Linked DNA regions of Homo sapiens: region 2 is linked to region 1. The links come from fine-mapping of genetic effects on gene expression. A gene starts in region 1. The other region holds a variant in brackets. All regions are shown on one strand. Distances are between the middles of the regions. Region 1 holds the start of RBM15-AS1 (RBM15 antisense RNA 1). Region 2 overlaps RBM15-AS1 (RBM15 antisense RNA 1).

Evidence for each region. PIP is the estimated chance that this variant, and not a neighbour inherited with it, causes the effect.
Region 2: its variant is fine-mapped to the expression of RBM15-AS1 in whole blood (TOPMed, PIP above 0.99).

The regions. Positions count from the first base shown.
Region 1 is chr1:110,335,429-110,345,264 of GRCh38, forward strand. RBM15-AS1 (RBM15 antisense RNA 1) reads right to left here and starts at 3,743. Exons shown (of 4, transcript NR_036595.1): 1 at 3,569-3,743. RBM15 (RNA binding motif protein 15) reads left to right here and starts at 3,949. Exons shown (of 3, transcript NM_022768.5): 1 at 3,949-6,840. The coding sequence starts at 3,978. LOC124904276 reads left to right here. Exons shown (of 1, transcript XM_047437983.1): 1 at 1-3,575. The coding sequence starts at 3,007. The coding sequence ends at 3,513. RefSeq lists enhancers at 2,628-2,817, 3,958-4,257, 4,288-4,407, 4,378-5,116, 4,488-4,937 and 2 more and a silencer at 2,918-3,187.
Region 2 is chr1:110,279,211-110,292,353 of GRCh38, forward strand. RBM15-AS1 (RBM15 antisense RNA 1) reads right to left here. Exons shown (of 4, transcript NR_036595.1): 4 at 7,165-9,361. It also overlaps a transcript of KCNC4 not described here. Among named protein-coding and RNA genes, the nearest start is that of RBM15-AS1, 53 kb to the right of the region's middle. RefSeq lists an enhancer at 7,600-7,649. The variant C/G (reference allele first, on the strand shown) is at 6,356.

The DNA.
Region 1 (9,836 bases):
AACCATGGGTCACTTTTATCCACTTTTACACATGTGCCCTCTCTAAAGCACACATGTAAACAGAGGATAAAACCTAACTTGGTTGGGTGCAGTGGCTCACATCTGTAATCCCAGTGCTTTGGGGAGGCTGAGATAGGAGGATCACTTGAGGCCAGTAGTTTGAGATAAGCCTGGGCAACATGGCTAGACCCCATTGCTACAAAAAATTAAAAAATTAGCTTAGTGTGGTGGTGTGTGCCTGTGGTCCTAGCTACATGGAAGGCTGAATCGGGAGGATTGCTTGAGCCCAGGAATTTGAGGTTGCAGTGAGTTATGACTGCACCATTACACTCCAGCCTGGGTGACAGAGCAAGTCCCTGTCTCTAAAACAAAAACAAAAACAAAACAAAACAACAAAAAAGAAAAAACAAAAAAAATAAAAAACTCACTAAGCAGCTTTATGCTTTAAAGCAGGGGTTCCCAGACCCCAGGCTGTGGACCAGTAATGGTCAGTTGCCTGTTAGGACCTGGCTGCACAGCAGGTGAGGGGCAGGGGAGGGAGCATTACTGCCTGAGCTCTGCCTCCTGACAGATCAGCAGAGGCATTTGATTCTCAGAGGAGGGCTAACCCTATTGTGAATGGAGTATGTGAGGGATGTGGGTTGTGTGTTCCTTATGATAATCTAATGCCTGATGATCTGAGGTGGAACAGTTCCATGAAGCTGGTCCCTGATGCCAAAAAGTTTGGGGACCACTGCTTTAAAGAACACAAAGGATTTTCAGGTAGTATCTGCTGGAAGCCAGGGGAGGGGGTAATTTTGGGGGCAATAACACAAAGGAAATGAAAACAATCACTTATTTTAACTACAGCATGGATCCAACTTATTCATTTGTTGTGGAAACACACACACACACACACACACATACACATCACAGGCAATATTTTGGCTGTTACTCTTAATGGAATCTAGGCCTTTTCCATCTAACCATAAAACTTACTAGCACTCTTGGCTCCAGGCAGATTTCCAGTCCCCCTAGGCAAGCCTTTGTACTATAGCCAGCTGCAGGCAGTAGCTTCCATCAAGCTCCCTGGTATTTGAAGTGGCAAGCCACTAAACTTGGCATGCCTCTGGTGCATGTTCACACAGACTGGGTGTCTGTTTATCTCCCTGAATTATTTCTCTCAAATCTTGTGCTCCCTCAACCCCTATCTTGAAGTTTGGAAAACTACTGATTTGGTCATTATCTTTTTCTTTGATCAGTGAGTCACCTTAGCAGGTCTATTTAGGTTAAAAAGTCACTCTGGTGCCTGGTTTATTATCTCGATTGGTTATTACATTGAGTAATCAGATAATGGCTTAACTTCAATTTCCATTTGTGGTCTATTAATATAACCTTGAAACAGATTTAAACCCAGCTATAACTTTTTATTTCATGCTTTTACAAATAATGTGTTCATGTGTTTTTTATCCTCCAGCATCCAGATTTTTATCTTTAAATACCATCTCCCACTAAAAGGAACCAGAGCTCTCTGGAGAAATGGCTGATTCCACAACTGGGGCAGGAAATGTATCAGGTAAGTCTGGAAGAAAATAATGGAGAAAAGAAGAGTGGGAAGAGTGATGCAGATGAAACAAGATTGACATGATTTGATAATTGCTGAAATAGGGTGTTGGGTACACATGGGAGTTCTTTAAAGTATTCTTTTATATATTTTAAACTTTTTCCATAAAAATAGTTTAAGGAAAGTTAAAAATGTTATTTTTTAAACTGAAGGAGTAATAGCGCCCTTTGTAGAAACAAAAGATTTCTACAAAGAAAAGTAAAGTCTCCCTCCTACTCCAGACCCTCGCACACCTCTTCAGGGCAATCCTAGTAACAATTTCCCGTGTATTTGTCAAGAAAGTTTCCATGAAAATATATTTTTTAAATGTACATACTCATAAATACAAACATTTTTAAAACCACAAATGGTAGCGTATTATACACATTATTTTATGCCTTATGAAGTTTTATTTCCCATTTTAATACAATGAAGATGTCTACACATTACAATATTGTGGATTTTTATGCTTTACAATTGAGCTTCTTCCTTCGAGTTTCTTTGATCTAATCAAGAGATAGAAGGCCTCCAGCTTCACATTCCTCACGATTATTTACAAAAAGAAGGATGGCTCAGCCAAGGCTAAATTTAGGTTACAGTCCCTAATCTTAACACAGTTTTTAAGTTTAGGTTTCAGCTTTTGGGATATTATTGTTACCTTGAAAAATGTCACGTTTAAAAACACCTCACACCCTCTACTATAGATTGGATCTTGGGAAATAGGGTTGAGGACCGGATCAATACAAGAATCCTCATAACCTCCGCCCCGGCGCGAACCTGGGAGGGCTGCAGACAGTCTAAAGGCTGTGGTGACCTCAGCGCTGCGTCCCTCCAGCAACCGGCGAGTGCTGGGGCACAGGCCATACCCCCCTAAGCTCGGCATCGCCTGCACCTCTCACAGGTGCTCTGTCCGCCACAGTAACGCACTATGGAAAGGAAAGTTGTACGGCGAACGACTGAAGGAGCCAAACGAGGTGGATCTGGAGCGGCCGCAAGGTGCCTGTGCTGCTGGCTTTTAACACACAATAAGAGTGCCAAGGGATACAAGAAGCCACAGGGGGAAAAACAAGTGACATATCTGCATGGAGCCTAAATTTCGCTTGGTGATTTTCAGGGTAGAAGCATTACATATTAAAAACACTGCTATTTTAGGGGAATACAGAATTTAAAAATCCACACAGATTCGCAACATAAAACATGCCGCCCAAAGACACGTCCGCGGTGTCCCGACAGTTCCGGCTCCGCCCGCGGGCCACGAGGCGGGGAGCGACGGTCACTCCCCTCGGTTACCCGGAGTACTTGGGCGGGAACGGGTAGCTCGCGGGAGAGACGGGCTCCTGGGCGAGGGCTGCGTCTTAGTCGCCCTGCTTCTTAGCTCTCGAGGTCCCGCGTGTTACGTGTTAGCACCGCCCGGGGGCGTCAGCATGACCCGAGGCTGCAGGAACCGTGAACTCTCTGCCCCGCGGGCCCAGGTGACCGCGGGCGGCGCTCTCCCGCGCGCGGGGGGCGGGGCTCCCCCCGGCTGTTCACTCAGCTACCACAGCGACGTAAAATGGTGTCCGCTAGGCGTCCCAGGACGGCTTCCTGAGGGACTGGAGGGCCCCGACAGCCGGAAAGCCTGCCCCGCCCCTTGGCCGGCACAGGTACGACGGCGGGGAGCTCAGAAGTTTCGAACTCCAAGGGCCGAAGCACAGCCAAACACCCCACGGAACTTAACAAATGTTTGTGGGGAGAACGCCGAAAACGCGGGGAGGCGGGGCTGGCGCACAGTCACCCTCTCGCGACATCTAAGTGACGTCGCACAGCAAGCACGTGTTCTAGTCTTTCACCTTCAGTCAGCCTCCTCCGTTATACAGGCCTACCCCTTTAAGCGAGTGATGGACAGTTATTTCAGCCTATCAACTTCCTTGCCGACATCCAATCAGATTTAAACTTCTTTTAGCCGCCGGAGGAGTTGGAAAAAGGGGGTCGAAAGAGGGAGCTTACCGTCTCTCGCGATATCGCTGTGAGCCTGCCTCTCTGGAAAAAACGCCGAAACTGATGGCCCGACCTCCCAAATAGTGGTTTAAAGGACGGGTTTATAAGCCAATGAAAGGGATAAGGAGGTGGGTTGCTGCTGTCACTGAGCAAGAAGTACCGTTACAGGGCAGACTTTTTGTCCAATCAACACCTCAACACTTTGGGTCACGTGACCGCAGAGTGCGAGGGGCGGAGCTACAGTCTGGCGCGAGGAACCGTTAAGATAGACAACAAATGTAACCAATGAGGTACTCCGACTAGGGGGTTGGGAACCCAATAACAGTGGTTGGGCGGGCGCCTTCCTGGAGCGCGGGGAGATGTAAAGATAGACAAATAATTTTCCCAATGAGACTGTAGAAGAGAGAGCAATTGGCCAATGAGGACTGCGGGGCGGGACCCTGTGCCGCGGCGGAGTCCAAGATGGCGGCGTGCGGTTCCGCTGTGTGAAACGAGCGCGGGGCGGCGGGTTACTCAGCTCCGCGGAGACGACCTCCGACGACCCGCAACAATGAAGGGAAAAGAGCGCTCGCCAGTGAAGGCCAAACGCTCCCGTGGTGGTGAGGACTCGACTTCCCGCGGTGAGCGGAGCAAGAAGTTAGGGGGCTCTGGTGGCAGCAATGGGAGCAGCAGCGGAAAGACCGATAGCGGCGGTGGGTCGCGGCGGAGTCTCCACCTGGACAAGTCCAGCAGTCGAGGTGGCAGCCGCGAGTATGATACCGGTGGGGGCAGCTCCAGTAGCCGCTTGCATAGTTATAGCTCCCCGAGCACCAAAAATTCTTCGGGCGGGGGCGAATCGCGCAGCAGCTCCCGGGGTGGAGGCGGGGAGTCACGTTCCTCTGGGGCCGCCTCCTCAGCTCCCGGCGGCGGGGACGGCGCGGAATACAAGACTCTGAAGATAAGCGAGTTGGGGTCCCAGCTTAGTGACGAAGCGGTGGAGGACGGCCTGTTTCATGAGTTCAAACGCTTCGGTGATGTAAGTGTGAAAATCAGTCATCTGTCGGGTTCTGGCAGCGGGGATGAGCGGGTAGCCTTTGTGAACTTCCGGCGGCCAGAGGACGCGCGGGCGGCCAAGCATGCCAGAGGCCGCCTGGTGCTCTATGACCGGCCTCTGAAGATAGAAGCTGTGTATGTGAGCCGGCGCCGCAGCCGCTCCCCTTTAGACAAAGATACTTATCCTCCATCAGCCAGTGTGGTCGGGGCCTCTGTAGGTGGTCACCGGCACCCCCCTGGAGGTGGTGGAGGCCAGAGATCACTTTCCCCTGGTGGCGCTGCTTTGGGATACAGAGACTACCGGCTGCAGCAGTTGGCTCTTGGCCGCCTGCCCCCTCCACCTCCGCCACCATTGCCTCGAGACCTGGAGAGAGAAAGAGACTACCCGTTCTATGAGAGAGTGCGCCCTGCATACAGTCTTGAGCCAAGGGTGGGAGCTGGAGCAGGTGCTGCTCCTTTCAGAGAAGTGGATGAGATTTCACCCGAGGATGATCAGCGAGCTAACCGGACGCTCTTCTTGGGCAACCTAGACATCACTGTAACGGAGAGTGATTTAAGAAGGGCGTTTGATCGCTTTGGAGTCATCACAGAAGTAGATATCAAGAGGCCTTCTCGCGGCCAGACTAGTACTTACGGCTTTCTCAAATTTGAGAACTTAGATATGTCTCACCGGGCCAAATTAGCAATGTCTGGCAAAATTATAATTCGGAATCCTATCAAAATTGGTTATGGTAAAGCTACACCCACCACCCGCCTCTGGGTGGGAGGCCTGGGACCTTGGGTTCCTCTTGCTGCCCTGGCACGAGAATTTGATCGATTTGGCACCATACGCACCATAGACTACCGAAAAGGTGATAGTTGGGCATATATCCAGTATGAAAGCCTGGATGCAGCGCATGCTGCCTGGACCCATATGCGGGGCTTCCCACTTGGTGGCCCAGATCGACGCCTTAGAGTAGACTTTGCCGACACCGAACATCGTTACCAGCAGCAGTATCTGCAGCCTCTGCCCTTGACTCATTATGAGCTGGTGACAGATGCTTTTGGACATCGGGCACCAGACCCTTTGAGGGGTGCTCGGGATAGGACACCACCCTTACTATACAGAGATCGTGATAGGGACCTTTATCCTGACTCTGATTGGGTGCCACCCCCACCCCCAGTCCGAGAACGCAGCACTCGGACTGCAGCTACTTCTGTGCCTGCTTACGAGCCACTGGATAGCCTAGATCGCAGGCGGGATGGTTGGTCCTTGGACCGGGACAGAGGTGATCGAGATCTGCCCAGCAGCAGAGACCAGCCTAGGAAGCGAAGGCTGCCTGAGGAGAGTGGAGGACGTCATCTGGATAGGTCTCCTGAGAGTGACCGCCCACGAAAACGTCACTGCGCTCCTTCTCCTGACCGCAGTCCAGAATTGAGCAGTAGCCGGGATCGTTACAACAGCGACAATGATCGATCTTCCCGTCTTCTCTTGGAAAGGCCCTCTCCAATCAGAGACAGACGAGGTAGTTTGGAGAAGAGCCAGGGTGACAAGCGAGACCGTAAAAACTCTGCATCAGCTGAACGAGATAGGAAGCACCGGACAACTGCTCCCACTGAGGGAAAAAGCCCTCTGAAAAAAGAAGACCGCTCTGATGGGAGTGCACCTAGCACCAGCACTGCTTCCTCCAAGCTGAAGTCCCCGTCCCAGAAACAGGATGGGGGGACAGCCCCTGTGGCATCAGCCTCTCCCAAACTCTGTTTGGCCTGGCAGGGCATGCTTCTACTGAAGAACAGCAACTTTCCTTCCAACATGCATCTGTTGCAGGGTGACCTCCAAGTGGCTAGTAGTCTTCTTGTGGAGGGTTCAACTGGAGGCAAAGTGGCCCAGCTCAAGATCACTCAGCGTCTCCGTTTGGACCAGCCCAAGTTGGATGAAGTAACTCGACGCATCAAAGTAGCAGGGCCCAATGGTTATGCCATTCTTTTGGCTGTGCCTGGAAGTTCTGACAGCCGGTCCTCCTCTTCCTCAGCTGCATCAGACACTGCCACTTCTACTCAGAGGCCACTTAGGAACCTTGTGTCCTATTTAAAGCAAAAGCAGGCAGCCGGGGTGATCAGCCTCCCTGTGGGGGGCAACAAAGACAAGGAAAACACCGGGGTCCTTCATGCCTTCCCACCTTGTGAGTTCTCCCAGCAGTTCCTGGATTCCCCTGCCAAGGCACTGGCCAAATCTGAAGAAGATTACCTGGTCATGATCATTGTCCGTGGTGCGTCCTAAAGTCCATGTGTAACTTGTATTTACTACTTTGACATGGTTCCTGTTTTGTGATGTGTAATGGGATACAGCATCAGATGCAATTTTCTTTTTAGTTGTTAGTTGTAGCATTTTCTTTTTTATATTTTTATAAACGTCTTTAAAATAGAAATCAGGACAGTTTAGCTATTTTTTTGTTTGTTTAGCTATTATTTTAAGTGAAAGGGATGCCCTAAAGGTAGCAGGCAGGCAGACAGATTTGCTTTAATTAGGAGTTCCCACCCTTATGAGTAATTTTTTTTCTCTATTCAGTTGTTTTTTTTTTAATCTTGAGCTTAAAAAATCCTCAGAGTTACAAAACCAAAATTTTGAAAAGTCAGAATTTGGAGAAAGGAGTCCACTGACCATATAAAGAGAGTAATAGCCACCTAAAAATGACTCGATTGGTGTGTAGGTAAATAATTCTTTTACCAGAAATGTGTGTGACTGAAATTTGATCAGGGATCTCAAAGATATGCTGGTAAATTGTATAGCAATGTAATTATTTTAATCAGGTATTTGAGTATTTCTTAAGATACAGTTTATTCCCAGAGAGTTTGCTTTAACATGCATTTTTTAAATCATTTGTTCTAGAGTTCTGTATCCCATATATGCACTTTTGGTTTGTAGCAGTAACTGTTCAGTAAAAATTAAGGACTATGTTACAAACCATATATGTCTTATGCTTACACTAGTATGCAAGAAGTGAGTAGGTGCTTTTAAAATCAGAATTCTTTGGTCAGTTATTGGTGTGTGGTGGTGTTTTTACTGACTTTTTCAGAGAGGTGTAGCAGGTACAGTTCTAATCGTGCATATTTCGAAACTAAGTGTTCTTCATCAAAGATGAGTTTTTGTTTTTGTATCAATTCAAATTTCTGGTTTCAATAATAGAAAGAAGAGTTGTCTGCAGGCTCATAGTCATCTTTTATTTCAGTGGGCATTTAAATCAGCCATATTTGGATTGCAGAATTTCTTAAAAAGTCATCATAAAATGCCTTTGACATGCTCTTTTAAAATTTTGCTTGTCTTTTTATTTTCATATTTAAACAGTAGTGACATTACATTATTGAAAATGTTTTGAACATCTTGGAAATTTTATGTTCAATATTCTCACTGCTGTCCAGCTACGGAATTGAAATGTCAGTGTAGGAAAACCTTTTTTAATTGTTTTATTTTCCCAGACACCCGGAATTAATACAGGATCATTTAACTTAGCCTCACAGTTTTTTTTTTTTCAAAGGTGAGATGATATCAACCTCTGGTTCTCAACAAGGACTTTTGCTGCTTAACAGTAATGGATTTTTTTTTTTTAATCTATCCCCTCTGTCCCACCCCTAATTTGTCAGGTCATTAGTAAGTATATTTTTCTCCCTTGATTTAAGTGCTGAAGACTTCAGCTAAGGCCCTTGATATTTAATTATGATTAGAGACTTTTGGACCTTCTGGATCATGGTCATGTTTCTGTTCTATGAAAGTGACTTAACTTGAAGCCTGGCAGAACCCAACTGTTTTCTTTCTGTTATCAAAGCTGGTAGTTTTGAAATAGCACCAATAATAACCCAGGGAAATGTCATGTAATTTTTATTTTCCATTATGACAGGTGTCTAATGCATGTCAGCACAAAAGTGTCATCACTGCTGTGTCATCCCTCTTGGTTTTCACTATGCATCTATAATTTTTTAAGTTTGCAGGTTTTGTGGGGGTTTTTGTTTGTTTGTTTTTAAACTGGAAAAACTAGCCATTTTGAGAGAAGGAAGGTTCTAGGCTATGAGCATGAAGGTCCTTGTGCCTCTTGGGAAAATACCTGAAATCCTATAATGAAGACTTTTGATGCTTCTTGCTTTCAAAAAGCTGTGGTTGGTTTGGAGTAGACACCTGTTCAGAAACTAATGCAAGTGTGGAGTCTACATACGTGGGCTCATAGTATAATTTGTGGCCAGCTACATTTTTCCAGTTTAAATAAACTCACTAACCATTAATTTTTGAATATCTTTTGTTGAGATAGTTGGACAAATGATTTTGCTCTTTTGGAGAGTGAAGTCCATGACATCTAATTTTACTGTCATCCAAAATGTGTGTTTTATTTCTTTTCTTTTACTTTCTTTTTTTTTGTTTGTTTTTTGTTTTTTGTTAGTGTGACAGCGTACAGAAGAGTACTGTGTTTTTGCTCCATGTTTGTTTGAATCTTTACCTGACATTGCCGCTTTTGTTAGGTCTGGGCAATTTGTGCTTCAGTGTTTTTGAAACAATGGCTTGATACCATTTCTAAATGTATGTATTATAAAAAACTAATTATGTTTAGTTGGTCATTACCTACAGAGTGCCATAGTCCACATGAACCTCATATTTGTACTGCCCATTCTTTTGTGCAGGTTCATAATATCCATAAAGTATCTAGTTAAACCTTAAGAATTCAAATGAAAGCAAAAGTCTAAAACCGGTTCTACTTCTCATTAGCCAGGATTTAATAATCCCAACGTTGAATGTTCTTTGTAACAACCAATTTTTTTCTATCTTTCTTCTTTAATTATTTTAATGTAGTTGATTTTTCTGGAACTCAGTTAAAATGAATGGAAAGAAAACTTCAGGATATCATTTAATGACTATTAAGTATTATTGGTAAAAACGTGAAGATAAGACTTTTAGATCACAGCTTCAAATTTTATGGAAAATTAAGCAAGCAATACCTAGCCAATAGTTCTGCTTAACTTTTTGGTTAAGTATTTTGTTGGGATTCCTATAAATAATTTTTCACACAAAGTTTTAAATTTCTGGTGTACTTTGACTCTCAACTGAGAGTGGATAGAGTTTTTCTTTTGAGGATTACATCTTAAAATGTCCATCGCCTGGCTGGTTATAAGCATTTGTCACCTTTTGAAGGTAAAATATACTCTGGCCCTTCTTGACTCAGTTACAGGTCATTTTAGGTCCAGTAATAAGAGTCAGGTGTTTGGTTATTGCTTTCAGAGT
Region 2 (13,143 bases), 55 kb before region 1:
CTGGAGCATGGCTAAACATGGCTCTCTACAAAGCCACTTCCAGTTGATAGAGTCGGCATTCTGATTTTAACCAACTCGCCATCCTGTTCTCTGAACCATCCAAGTGAAGATAATAAGGGTTGGGAGAGATAATGAATGAAATGAGATTCTCAACTAGATTGTAAGTTCCTTGCGGGCAAGGGCAAGTTCTGTCTCATTCACTTGTCTGTCTCCAGTATACACAGGAGAGACCCAATAAACATTTGTGGAATGAATGAAGAGCCTCCCATGTGGTCTCCCTGAGATGCACACTCCCCACCTGACTCCCTAAAATTGGAATGGACTCCAATTCATAGCTTTCCATCTGGACTAATGCTGGATAGAGTGATCCTGGGAAAGGAGAGATTTGAAAGAGCAAAGATGATATAGTGAGCTCTGCTCTCAGATGTAAAAGGGGAATGCAGGACTGATGTTTTCCATTATTCCTGAAAGAGTGATAATGGCTATGAGAGAGAGCTTTGAAAGAATCTGGTACCTGTGTCACTTCTCCATGTTAATTTTTTTTTTATTATCCCCTTCCTGGTTCCCTGTGGGCTTTAGGAATTTTTTTTTTTTTTTTTTTTTTTTGAGATGGAGTCTCACTCTGTTGCCCGGGCTGGAGTGCAGTAGCACGATCTCAGCTCGCTGCAACCTCCACCTCCCGGATTCAAGCGATTCTCCTGCCTCAGCCTCCCCGAGTAGGCACCCGCCACTACGCTCAGTTAATTTTTTGTATTTTTAGTAGAGACGGGGTTTCATCATGTTGGCCAGGCTGGTCTCAATCTCTTGTGATCCACATGCCTTGGCCTCCCAAAGTGCTGGGATTACAGGTGTGAGCCACCGCACCCGGCTGGAATGTTTAGGCTATCATTTATTGAGTGCTGTGTTCCATCAGCTTTGTAAACATTGACCCACTAGATGATCACAATAGGTTGGTTCTCTTTTTAACCATTTCGCAGAAATCGAGGCACAGAGAGGTTAATTACATGCCTATGATGGCCAGCTAGAGGGCGACTAAGTTCAGGTTCATACCTAGGCCAGTGTGCCTCCAAAGCTGGTCTTTGTAAAGCCCTTCAAACAGAGAGATTCTGCGTGCTTGTGCTTGGTGGCCACAGGGTGGGAGGAGATTGTGCTCTGTCTCCCTGCCAAGGTTGAAGACTCTGGGGGAGGGAGTGGCAATGGGAGAAGCTAAGGGAAGGTGTCTTCCCTGAGACCTTAGGGAAGGCGGAAACAAGTCCCGTGAAATTGGCCTGGATAGGAAACAGGTCCTCAGTCTACAACTCTGCGAAACCCCTGAGGACAGAGGCCCAGCTCAGAGGCCCAGGTGAGTCTAGCCTGGTCCGCTGCCCACAATCCCCTAATCTCCTGCTACACCATCGCCTAGTTATCTACCCCAACATTTGGGTGGCCAGATTTAGCAAATTACAGGATGGCCAGGTAACTTTGCAATTCAAATAACAACAAATTTTTTTTCAGTATAAGTATGGCATATTTGGGACAAATACTAAAAAATTATTTGTTGTTTATCTGAAATTCATATTTAATTGGGTGTCTTGTATTTTATGTAGCAATTCTATCTACCATCCTTGGCCACCTCCCACACCATCCCCTGGTCTGCTGCCTTGCTATTCCCAGTGGAAATTCCTGGCCCCACGTAGACCAAATTGCTGTGTCACATTCCCTACCCAGAGCTGCCCAGTGATCTTTACCCAGCTTAGTTTCTCCAGGAGCCCTCCTCGAAGCAAACAGTTGCATCCCTGAGGACAGGACCGTGAGCATCCTGCCCCAAGTCACTCAGATCCTCCTGGGGGTATTAGGTTCAGGCTCCCTGTGGTGGTGGTGGTGGTGGTGCGGGGGCTTCTGGATAGCAAGGTAAAGAAGCTAATGAGACAAGAAACCTTGCCTCATAATTTGGAAAACTTCATCACTTCCCTGGCTCTGGGCCAAAGCAATCATTTTAAGGTGCTTGGAGCGGGGAAGGGGGACTGAGAGGAGGGTGGTTTGCTGTGGGTTTCTCCTCCCAGACTTGCCAGCTGCAGACAGGATATGGTTAATGAGCTGTGGAAGCAGAATTCACCCAGGAAATGATGTGGGGCCACCCTACACCTGTTTCCAAAGGCTGTGGAGCTCCAGGCTTGGAATGAGTGAAATCTGAAATCTTACTACCTATTTGGGGGCTCCCACTCCTCTCTTCAGACATAAATACAGAGATGGGAAAGGACTTGACAGGAACCCATGGACTGAGGAAGATAGCAATGGGGGCGGGAAGGGGGAAGGGGAATTAGAGGAGCTGTGCTTTCTTTATCTGACTCCCCACATATGTAAAAACACACACACACACACACACACACACACACACACATACTGCACTTACAGCTCAGGAGCTGGGGAGCTGAGCTCTCATGCCTATTCTGTGGCTCATGGTGAGCCAGTTGCTTCCCTTGTCTAGGCCTCAGTTTGCTCATCTATAAATTTTAGGAGAAGGGCTAGAATCTCTCCGGCCCAGCCTGCAGAGGTCCAGGAATTTGGTATCCCCACCTAAGTATGATCTCTCTGAGAGCAGGGACTTGGCTTCAATCTCATGGATGACTGATCACTCAGAACCCAGCCAGCCTCAGGGAGAGTCCAGCAATGCTGGCTTCTGCTGCTGCTGCTGTCCCTAGACCTGAAGACTGGCCACAAAACCAGAGGCATTTCCCAATGTGTGAGCCGGGGCCTTCCCAGGCTGCGCTGGCAGAGGCTGCAGGGGAACCAGGAGCCTAAATTCCCAAGCAGGCAAATTACCCACTGAGCACCCTGCACCCTAGTGCCTAGGGACCAGTCCAGGAGACAGGGCAGAGGAGGACACATCTGCCAGGTGGCTCCCAGGGTCCCACCCCCGAGTCATTCTCATACTCAGTGCCACTGTTAATGCCTTCCGCTTTAGCTTAATTAAGCCATCTGCCCACATTAAATGGTAAATTATCTCAATCACTCCCTGGATCCCAGAGGGGAGAAAGAGATGAAAGGAAAATGTCATCCCTTGAGTGGAGCTGGAGGACTCTGCCCCACCTGTGATGACTTCTCCCTCAGTGAGAGACAGCCTCCAGTGTTTACAAATCCTTCTGTGTCCTTGAAAATCTAACTCCACCTGTCATCTCTCTGCTTCTTTCTCTTCCTATAGGGAGGAGCGAGGCTCTTACATGTCTGACCATGGGTAGGAAAAAAGATGAGAGCTTTTCTGTTTTTCCTCTACCTTAGGGGTGCTTGAGTGTCTGTAATGTTGCTCTCTTCCAATAAGCCTGTTATTTTTGCACCCCTGTCAGCTCTCAGTTCTGCTGAGGAAGCACTGTGCTCCCACTGAAGTGACCTGTGAACACCACTCTGCTCTGCAGGCATGTGGCCAGAGGCTGGAGGATGGAGGGATCTCATTACAGGCATCTGTGGGTAAGTGGGGAGGTGTCTCCCAGGGTAGAAGCACCTTCTTCGAAGGGTTGCTGTGGACCAGGGGATGGCCCTTGCTTGGCTTTGCAGTTCCAGACATTGGATTTATAAGCATGCTCGTAGTTGTTCAGGTTCAAGAACCATTGACTTACAGTCACTAAATCCCTAAGAGACTGATGAACCTGAGTCCAGTAAAAAACTGGGAGACATGACTTAAGAGAGATTGACTCACAGTCACTAAACTTCTAAGAGACTGAGTGTCTTGGTTCATTTTGTGTTGCTATAGCAGAATACCCAAGGCTGAGTAATTTATAAAGAAAAGAGGTATATTTAGCTCATGGTTCTGCAGGCTGGGAGGTTCAAGAAGCATGGTGCTGGCATCTGCTTGGCTTCTGTGTGGGCTTTCTTGCTGCATTAAGACATGGTGGAAGATCAAAGGGGAAGTGGACATGTGCAAAGAGGTAAATTTCAAGGAGTGTCCTGGTTCTATTAAAGCCCACTCTCAAGGGAGCATTCCTGTGAGAACTAGTTCAGTCTCACAGAGAGCAAGCGCTGACTACCACCAACCATTTATGAGAGATCTGTCCCCACCTGTCACCGGGCCCCACTTCCCAACACCGCCACATTGGGGATCAGTTTCAACATGCATTTTGGTGGGGTCAAACTCAAACCATAGCACTAAGGAGCCCACGGTAAATGTAAAATGGTGAGTATTCCTACCAAGTATTCCCTTTTTGGTACCAAGCTTACCCAGAAAACTAATAATCAGAAGATTGCTTACTGAGTTCAGAACAAAGAGACATTAGGTCAGGGGATAGGAAATTGTGATTAACGATGTCTGGTCCAGAGCCACTTGTCTCTCTCAGTGGAAGTGGAGACACACTGACTGGTTGTATTATTTGACTGCCCCTTTTCTGGACGCCTAGCAGACCCAGATCTTCAGTTGCCCTAGGCTTCCTTCAGTCAGACTGGGGACTACTGACTGGGCCCCAGCTCTCTTTAGCTACGTTTAGTCCTGACGACTTTTTTTGGACTTGGGTACTTCCCAGTCTCTTCATTATGCATTTACAAAGCATCATTTAGAGTGGGTCTTTTCTATGAATTGTTAATGCTTAGCTGTTGTACTTTCTTGAAAATGACTGAAGTCCCAGGTTCTGTTAATCTCTTTCTGTAGCTCCCTAGCTACACAGTTATTTTATGAATCATAAGTCATGCCCCCGGATCTCAGACAGACTTCATATGCTATTTCAGGGCACATTGGGCTTCTGCTGAGGCATCACTAAATGGAACCACTTGCTAACTGTGTTACTTTGGGCACAACACTAAGCCTCCATGAGCCTTGGTTTCCTTGGGATAAAATGGGGATATTAATGATGATTTCACAGGGATACAAAGATCAAGGGAAATAGTCAAGTGTTATATCTTGATCATGTATCAAAATGGGCTGTGACCTCCTTACAGTGACTGTCATCAGTCAGAAGCCTCAAGGGATGCTTTCCCAGACAGAAATAGTCTTGTGAATATGCTTAATTTGTTTATTCACAAAACATTTATCAAGCACCTACTGTGTGACAAGCATGGTACTTGCAGTGAGAGAATAAATTTTCTTAAATGCTGAAATAATTACTTTACCGTGAGAGGTGAGGGTAGTACATTGACAACTAATATTGGGAACTTATTGTGTGCCAGAGAGGAAACTGATTGCAGGTATCATTTTATTGAAGTCACACAATAGTCAAATGAGGTAGACACTTTTACTACTCCCATTTTGCAGATTAGCACACTGAGCTAATCAAATTCTTTAAGGTCAGACAGCTTGTATATGGTATAATTAGAACCCCGATCTGAGTGGCTGCAAAGATCATGCTCTCAACTAAACTCCAGAGAGGGATAGATTACAAGTGCAAAATCAAGATTGGTACAGATTAGACCCTCTTGCACTGTGTGTGTGATTTTCTTGCATGGTTATTAAATGTAATGTGTTGTATTCAAACATGACTGTGAGTTTAAGGCTACAATGTTTGGGTGAGTAAAAGGAGTATCTCCTTCAATAGGGTGAATAGTGATGAAAGAGCCCATAATGGAGACAAAGAGGATTCTCAGACTAGAATTCAGGAAGCAGAGGGAATGCCCCACGTAGGTGTGGCCTCCTGGAAAGTTAAGTGCAAAGGCAGCATCCACCACTTTGAGGTAAGCAGCAATCAGGAAGTGGGAAAGGGGCAGTGGGCCAGGGAGACCTGCCATCTCTCTTAATAAGATCCCAGACCTCCAAAACCAGCATATAAGGGGACCTGGGCCTCACTGCGTCCAACCCAGGGATTCATACTCCCCTCAGGGATGTTCTGACAATGACTGCTGCCTCTCTCATTGGGCTTCACGTCTAAAGGTCCAGCCCTTCTGTCTAAGGGACAAAAGATTGTCTTTAAAGCCTATTGCTGAGTGGGCAGGGTGTCTTGAAGTCATGTTCTATGGTCATATTCTATTGCCTGCATTTATTTTTTCTCTGTTATTCCTAAGCCTTTAGTCAAGTCTCATGTAACTGGCCCAGCCTGATTTCACCAGACAAAAGGAAAGGTCTTGTGTTCAGGCTCTAATTGGAGCATTAAAAAGATTGCAGGCTCCCTTCAGCTTTGTGGAGAGAATGTATTCCAGGTTAGAGTGTCCTCTGCATCCTCATCAGGAGATATGCTGGAATGGCCTTGTCACCACAAGACTGCCACGAAGCTTGTGAAGTTCACGGAATCACTTTAAGGCCCCAACCCACCCTCGGGCCCCAGCAGCTGATGCCCTTGCTCTCAGATTCCCATCATGGTTCCAGGTGGTGACTATTACCCAGTACCATACGTTCCAGACTGTGCCCATCTCAGGAGCCAGCTTGACAAACTCATCCCTAGAGTTTGTCAAGAATGCAGAG[C/G]CTTGAGCCTACTCCAGACCTCCTGAATCAGAATCTGCATGTTAACAGAGGCCAGATGATTCAGAAGCACATGGAAGTTTGAGATGCACAGATCCAGGGCAGGAGCTCTTAATCTGGGCCCATGAGCTCAATGGGGGAAAAATAGTATTACGTCTTTATTTTTTTATTTTTATTTTTATTTTTGAGACGGAGTCTCGCTCTGCAAATTTATTCTCTCACTGCAAGTACCATGCTTGTCACACAGTAGGTGCTTGATAAATGTTTTGTGAATAAACAAATTAAGCATATTCACAAGACTATTTCTGTCTGGGAAAGCATCCCTTGAGGCTTCTGACTGATGATAGTCACTGTAAGGAGGTCACAGCCCATTTTGATACATGAACAAGATATAACACTTGACTATTTCCCTTGATCTTTGTATCCCTGTGAAATCATCATTAATATCCCCATTTTATCCCAAGGAAACCAAGGAGTGCAGCGGTGTGATCTCGGCTCACAGCAACCTCCGCCTCCTGGGTTCAAGTGATTCTCCTGTCTCAGCCTCCCAAGTAGCTGGGACTACAGACACACGCCACCATGCCCAGCTAATTTTTTTATTTTTAGTAGAGACGGCGTTTCACCATGCTGGCCAGGATGATCTTGATCTCCTGACTTCATGATCTGCCCGCCTTGGCTTCCCAAAGTGCTGGGATTACAGGCGTGAGCCACCGCGCCCGCCCACATCTTTATTTTTATCAATCACTAACCAAACATTAGGATTTCCTTCCATTTTGGATGTAGCTTGCAAATCACAGACGTATTCACGATACTTTTGACTTTGTCACCGATAGAAATCATGGATATTTTTGTAACACATTACAGTTGTTTTAGACATCTCAAAATAGCATATATATTCACCACTACTTCAAAATAACAATAGCTATTAGATATGAAGTTATATTATGCTATATAATAGCAACCAAACTTATTATATCACAAAATTTGAAAAATATTTTTGATAAGGATTTCAAAGGACATGACTTCCCTTATTATCCCATGTGTTTTACTTTCTGCATTAGAAACTTTATTCTGAGAAGGGCTCACCAAGTTGCTGAGGGATCCATTACACTAAAAAGGCAAAGAACCTCTGCTCTAAGAATCACAGCAGGGCCGGAATAGTGTTTGGAGAATTTCAGACATGTGGGGTGAGCATTACTTAATCTGGAAAGCCCCAGAAGTCACATGTCCCCGCAGATAGGCAGCCTTCAGAGCAGACCTGACTGGCAGCTAGAGGTCTGCTTCAATGGCTTCTTCATTCTCCCTTCATTAAAAAGTAGGTTTGATAAGGCCCATGCTAAGGAATAAAACCAAGATTCCAAGTAGGGAAGATTGCTCTTGTCAGCCCAGCAAGAAAATCAGCGACCCAACTGAAAGAATATCAAAGATTATTCCTTTTATCAGCCCCTGTAGCCCCTGTCAATTTCCCCGCAGTAATCCACAGAAAAACACTTAAAAGGAAAATCACCTGTGTGCCTGTCTTTAGGGGCAGAAAGGAAGGAGCCAGTAGGGACACCAGCTGCCTTTGCAGCCGGAGGGGTGAGGAGAGTCCTGGGGAATGAGAGTGGGTGGTGATAGCTTTAAAAAGAAGATCCTGGCTGGGAGCGGTGGCTCATGCCTGTAATCCCAGCATTCTGGGAGGCTGAGGCGGGTGGATCACCTGAGGTCAGGAGATCGAGACTAGCCTGGCCAACATGGTGAAACCCCATCTCTACTAAAAGTAAAAAAATTAGCCAAATGTGGTGGCACACCTGTAATCCCAGCTCCTGGGAGGCTGAGGCAGGAGAATCACTTGAACCCAGGAGGTGGAGGTTGCAGTGAGCCGAGATAGCGCCACTGCACTGCACTCCAGCCTGGGTGACAGAGCAAGACTCCATCTCAAAAAAAAAACAAAAACAAAAAAGAAAAGAAATCCCTTTACACTAGGCATAAGGAAAATATAAATAAATAAAAATAAAAAGAAGATCCCATGGTAGGGGAGCAGCATCCCTAGACCTGAGGGAATGGTGGGGGTGTCTGGGTGAGATGTGACCCTGAGGCCAACAGCAGGCCTGAGCTGGTTGGTCCCCAGAATTCTCTTGAGGAGAGGGAAGCGGCCACCCCTGAAAAAAGCTCCTCTGGCAAGAGTGTAATGGAAGGGATAGCAAGATCAGGGGTCAGTGCTTCTCCCTGGCTCCTCAGCTGGAGGCAGGGTGGGTACAATGAGCCATTCCAGGAGCTGGGATGGACCAATAGCCCTGTGCTCTTTGGGGGCCTTGAAAACATGGTCCTATAGGGCTCCTGGCAAGATGCTTTGGGCCAACAATGGGGCTCTCTAGGGTAAGACTAACCTCGCGCTGTCCTTTATGAATAATGATAATAACTTCACAAACTGTTTAATATTTTAGACTTTTCAAAGTTGCCTTAAGGCAACCTGATATGGTAGTGGAAAGGGACCAAAACTGAAATCTACTTCTGCCCATGAAAAAGAAAATAAAGAAAGCCATAGCCAAATTTCTTTGGCCCTCTTGAGCTTCAGTTCTTTCCATCTGAAAGGTGGGGATAATAATAGCTGAGGAACCTGCTCAGTGATTTGTGTGCAGATCAAATGGCGCATGGGCACGAAAGATGAGGGCTTTGCCATGGAAGTGGAAGGTCCTGTTTCATCTGAGCACTGTCACCTCCTGTATGAGTTTCCTAGTGCTGCTGTAATAAAGTGCCACAGTCAGTGGCTTAAACCACAGGAATGTATTGGCTCGCTGTTCTGGAGGCTGCAAGTCCAAGACCAAGGCATTAGCAGGGTTGGTTCCTTCTGAGGGCTGTGCTTCTTCCTTTGCTTCTAGTGGTGGGCTGGCAACTGTAGGAGTTTCTCAGCAAGTAGAGGCATCACCCTGATCTCTGCCTTCATCTTCACATAGTGTTCTTCTTGGTAGGGTGTCTGTGTCCAATTTCTCCTTTTTATAAGGACACCAATCATACTGGAGTAGGGGCCTACCCAAATATAATAAGACCTTATCTCAACTAATTACATCGCAACAACCCCATTTCCAAACAAGGCCATAGAATGAGGGAGGGGTGGGACTTCAAAATTTGAGTTTGGGGCCAACACAATTCAGCCCATTACACTCTGTTAGCCCATTGATGCTCCTTGGCCGTGGGGAGCCCAGAACACACAGGTCAGGTACAGAGGATGGAGCAGGGTGGAGAAGTTCCAACTCTTCTAGGCAGATTCTGCTCTCAGATGAATTGAGGTCTTCCACCACTTCTTTTATTAAGCACTTAAACTTTATTAAACATCTACATTATGCCAGATATAGAGAATATAAAATGAATAAATTATTGTCCTTAACTTCAAGGGAAAAGAGAGACAGACATGTAAACAAATCATTGCAAGGCAGCATGATTCACACAATAAGAGATTTATGTGGCAAAAAAGACAGAGTCCAGGACAGGATTGTCAAGGAAGGCTCCTAGGAGGTGGTAACATTGGAACTAAATATTGAAGACAACTAGGGATTTTCCAGGCAGGCAAAAGGCAGAGACATTTCAACTAGACTGAAAGCACCACAGCACAGAAGTGTAAGAGCCTGGCTTGAGTAATAGTTTGGCTGGGCTAGAGATGGGAGCAATGGGAGACAGAAGTCAGAGGTAGGTTAGGGCCAGGTTAAGGGGGTTATCCACCACCCTAAAGAATGTAAACTTTAGAATGGAAATCCTATAGGACCGCCATGGAAAACTTTCTATGCTGTAAGTTCTGAAAAGTCAATGATCTCATTGGTTGTGGGAGATGAGGCCAGAGTACTAACATAGCAGACACTCAATATATATGCAACAAACACATGAATGAATGAAAGAGTGAATGAATGAATGGTTTTAAGCAGAAGAGTGGTATGAGAGTCATAAGAGTAGGGTGCATATGGAAGCAGATAAACACAGTCAGGATAATTTGCTGTATACCAGGCAAGTGCTGTGAGGGCCTGAATAGCCTCCAAGAAGAGCAGAAACACATGGCCTTCAATGGGATGGGAAAGGGGGGAAAAGGTGAAACTAATGGTACATCTGTAGGGGTCTTAAGATGGGATTTTTTTTTTTTTTTTTGAGACAGGGTCTCACTCTGTTGCCCAGGCTGGGGTGCAGTGACACGATCTTGGCTCACTGCAACCTCTGCCTCCTGGCTCAAGCAATCCTCACACCTCAGCCTCCTGACTAGCTGGGACCACAGGTGCGCCAAGAATACAAAAATTAGCCACCATGCCCAGCTAATTTTTGTATTCTTTGTAGAGATGGGGTTTCACCATGTCACTCAGGCTGGTCTCAAACTCCTGGGCTCAAGGGATCCTCCTGCCTTGGCCTCCCAAATTGCTGGGATTATAGGTATGAGCCACTGTGCCTGGCCTTAAGGTTTGAATTTGGAGGAGTTCCTGCCCCAGACCTCAGCCATCTCTGGGGTGCTACTTCCCGAGGGAAAAGAAAGAAGAGGCTGTAGGAGGCACTCTTGCTGAGAAGCACTGAAACCAGCAAAGAGCAGGAGGAGCCAAGAACAGAGCTCAGCTGCCCCAAGGCCAAAAGGAAGATAGATGCCCAACTGTGGGCCTGAGCTAAGCTTGGGGAATTTGGAACGCAATAGAAGGAAAAATGGGGCTACAGCGGGTTGAATAGTGTCTCCCCAAAATTCATGTCTACCCAGAACCTTGAAATGTGACCTCATTTGGAAACAGGGTCTTTGCAGATGTGAAATGAGATCATACTGAATTAGGGTGGGTCCTAAATCCAATGATAGGTGTCATTATAAGAGACAGGAAAGGACACAGACACACAGGGAGGAAGGCCATGTGAAGAAGGAAGCAGAGATTGGAGCTGTGCTGCCACAAGCCAAGGAAGGCCAGGAGCCACCAGCAGCGGGAACAGGTAAGGAAGAGTTCTCCCCCAGTGCCGTCACAGAGAGCATGGCCCCACCAACACCTTCATTTTGGACTTTTGGCTTCTGGAACTATGAGAGAATACATTTCCCATTGTTTTAAGCCCTTGAACTTGTGGTACTTTGTTATGGCAGCCCCAGAAAACTAACACAGAGTCAGAATACAAGGGGCTGGTGAAGGTTAGGTCAAATGGTCAACCATTGAGTAGGGACCCAGGCAGGAAAGGAAGGGACATCAGGAGGAACTGGTAGACTCAGAGAGGTCTAGGGCTGAAGGTCTTGAGGAAGAATGACAGGTTTGGGGAAAAGCTGAATGAACAGATTTATATCCTGAGGGTGGTATATTTAAAATTAAGATTTTAGAGGTGTCTGTTGGACAAGAAGTTGTAAAAAAAAAAAAAAAAAGATTTCAGAGATGGAACAGTTCCAGGTGACTATAGGTGTAATCAGATTAATCTCTTTTTTAGTGGAGAAAAGCTGCCTGACAACAGATTTACCCAGCCTGGCAAGACAATTTATCCTCCTTGGAATCTGCGCTTTAAATCCAAGGACTAAAGAAGAGCCTATGTTCTTCTGAGAAATTACTATTAGCTCCCTTCATGTCGAGGCATTTCAGACACTGCCTGGGAGTTTTGTGTTTTAGGAAGGTCATAGGGGTGGGGGACAAGGTCTCAAATCTCAGCCTGTGGGTGAGTCTTCCCAGGCCTGGCCCAGGCTTTCAGAGAAAGGCACCCCCCAGAGGCTTTCAGAAAGGTGTGCTTGTCTGGAGACCCCTGGGACATTAGATGGCAGAGAAAATAAAACCCACCAAAATGGCAAGGCAAAGCTGGGCCATTTGAGGAAATTCAGAAGGAAAAACTCCAAACAGAATCTGAAGGTAATAAAGTGACAACTCTACTGCAAGCCAGAGAAATTCTCAGAGTTGCCCTGGGGCCAGGAATTACTCAATTAAATAGCAAAAGCCCAGAGGGAAATGGAGAAACAGTACCTCTTCCTCCTTTACCTGAAGCTCTGCTCCCCCTATTCCCTTCACCCCATATGCCCTCTGCTAGCAGCTTCTCCCCGCAGGCCCTACCCTTAGACCAGTCTGCCATCACATCCCAGCTGTCAGTACATTCCTCCTTTCCCACTAGGACACGAACACTGATGGATCTTCTCTCCTCCTGCTCCTCTCTGGCCCTGGTCCAGGCTGTTTTCTATCACTTTCTCTCGGGAGCTTTCTAGCTGAGCTTTCCTATCACTTTCCCCTGGGGCGGGGGAGGGTCTCATTTCCACCTTCTCAAGATATTGTCTCCTATTATATATTTATTTTTTCTTTTTTAGCTATCTCCTGCGGAGAGGGTGGTCTCCTACTATTTAAACAGAAAAGAGTGTTTGTTTTGAGGGAGAGTGGACAGGCAATAAGGAAGTTACATTTCTTTCCTTACACAGTGCCTGAGCCAAGAGGACTCTGGCCCTAGTATCCACGTGACCAGAGCATCCTCAAGCCTGCCTCGTCAGCCCCTGCACTGTCCCCCAAAGGTCCTTGCATTTGCCAGCCCAAGACTGTCAGGGGCATAACCCTCTGACCATATCCTCACACTCTCTACCTTTAGCTCATTCTCCTCTCCCTGTGGCATCCTGGGCACCACTTCTTCCTCTCTCTCTCCCTAGCCCTTTCTCCAAATCCCCCAAGTGGGAGGGATAGGTTGGGAGCAGAAGGCTGTTTAGCTTTTACAAGCCCGGTGCAAGGATCTGCTAAGAACTATTCCAACGACCATGTTTTCCAGAACAGATTTTGTATTTAATCAATGAAGGTGTTTCTCTCCCAGCAGACAGCTAATCTCCAAGAGCCTCACATTCATCTTCTCTCGGT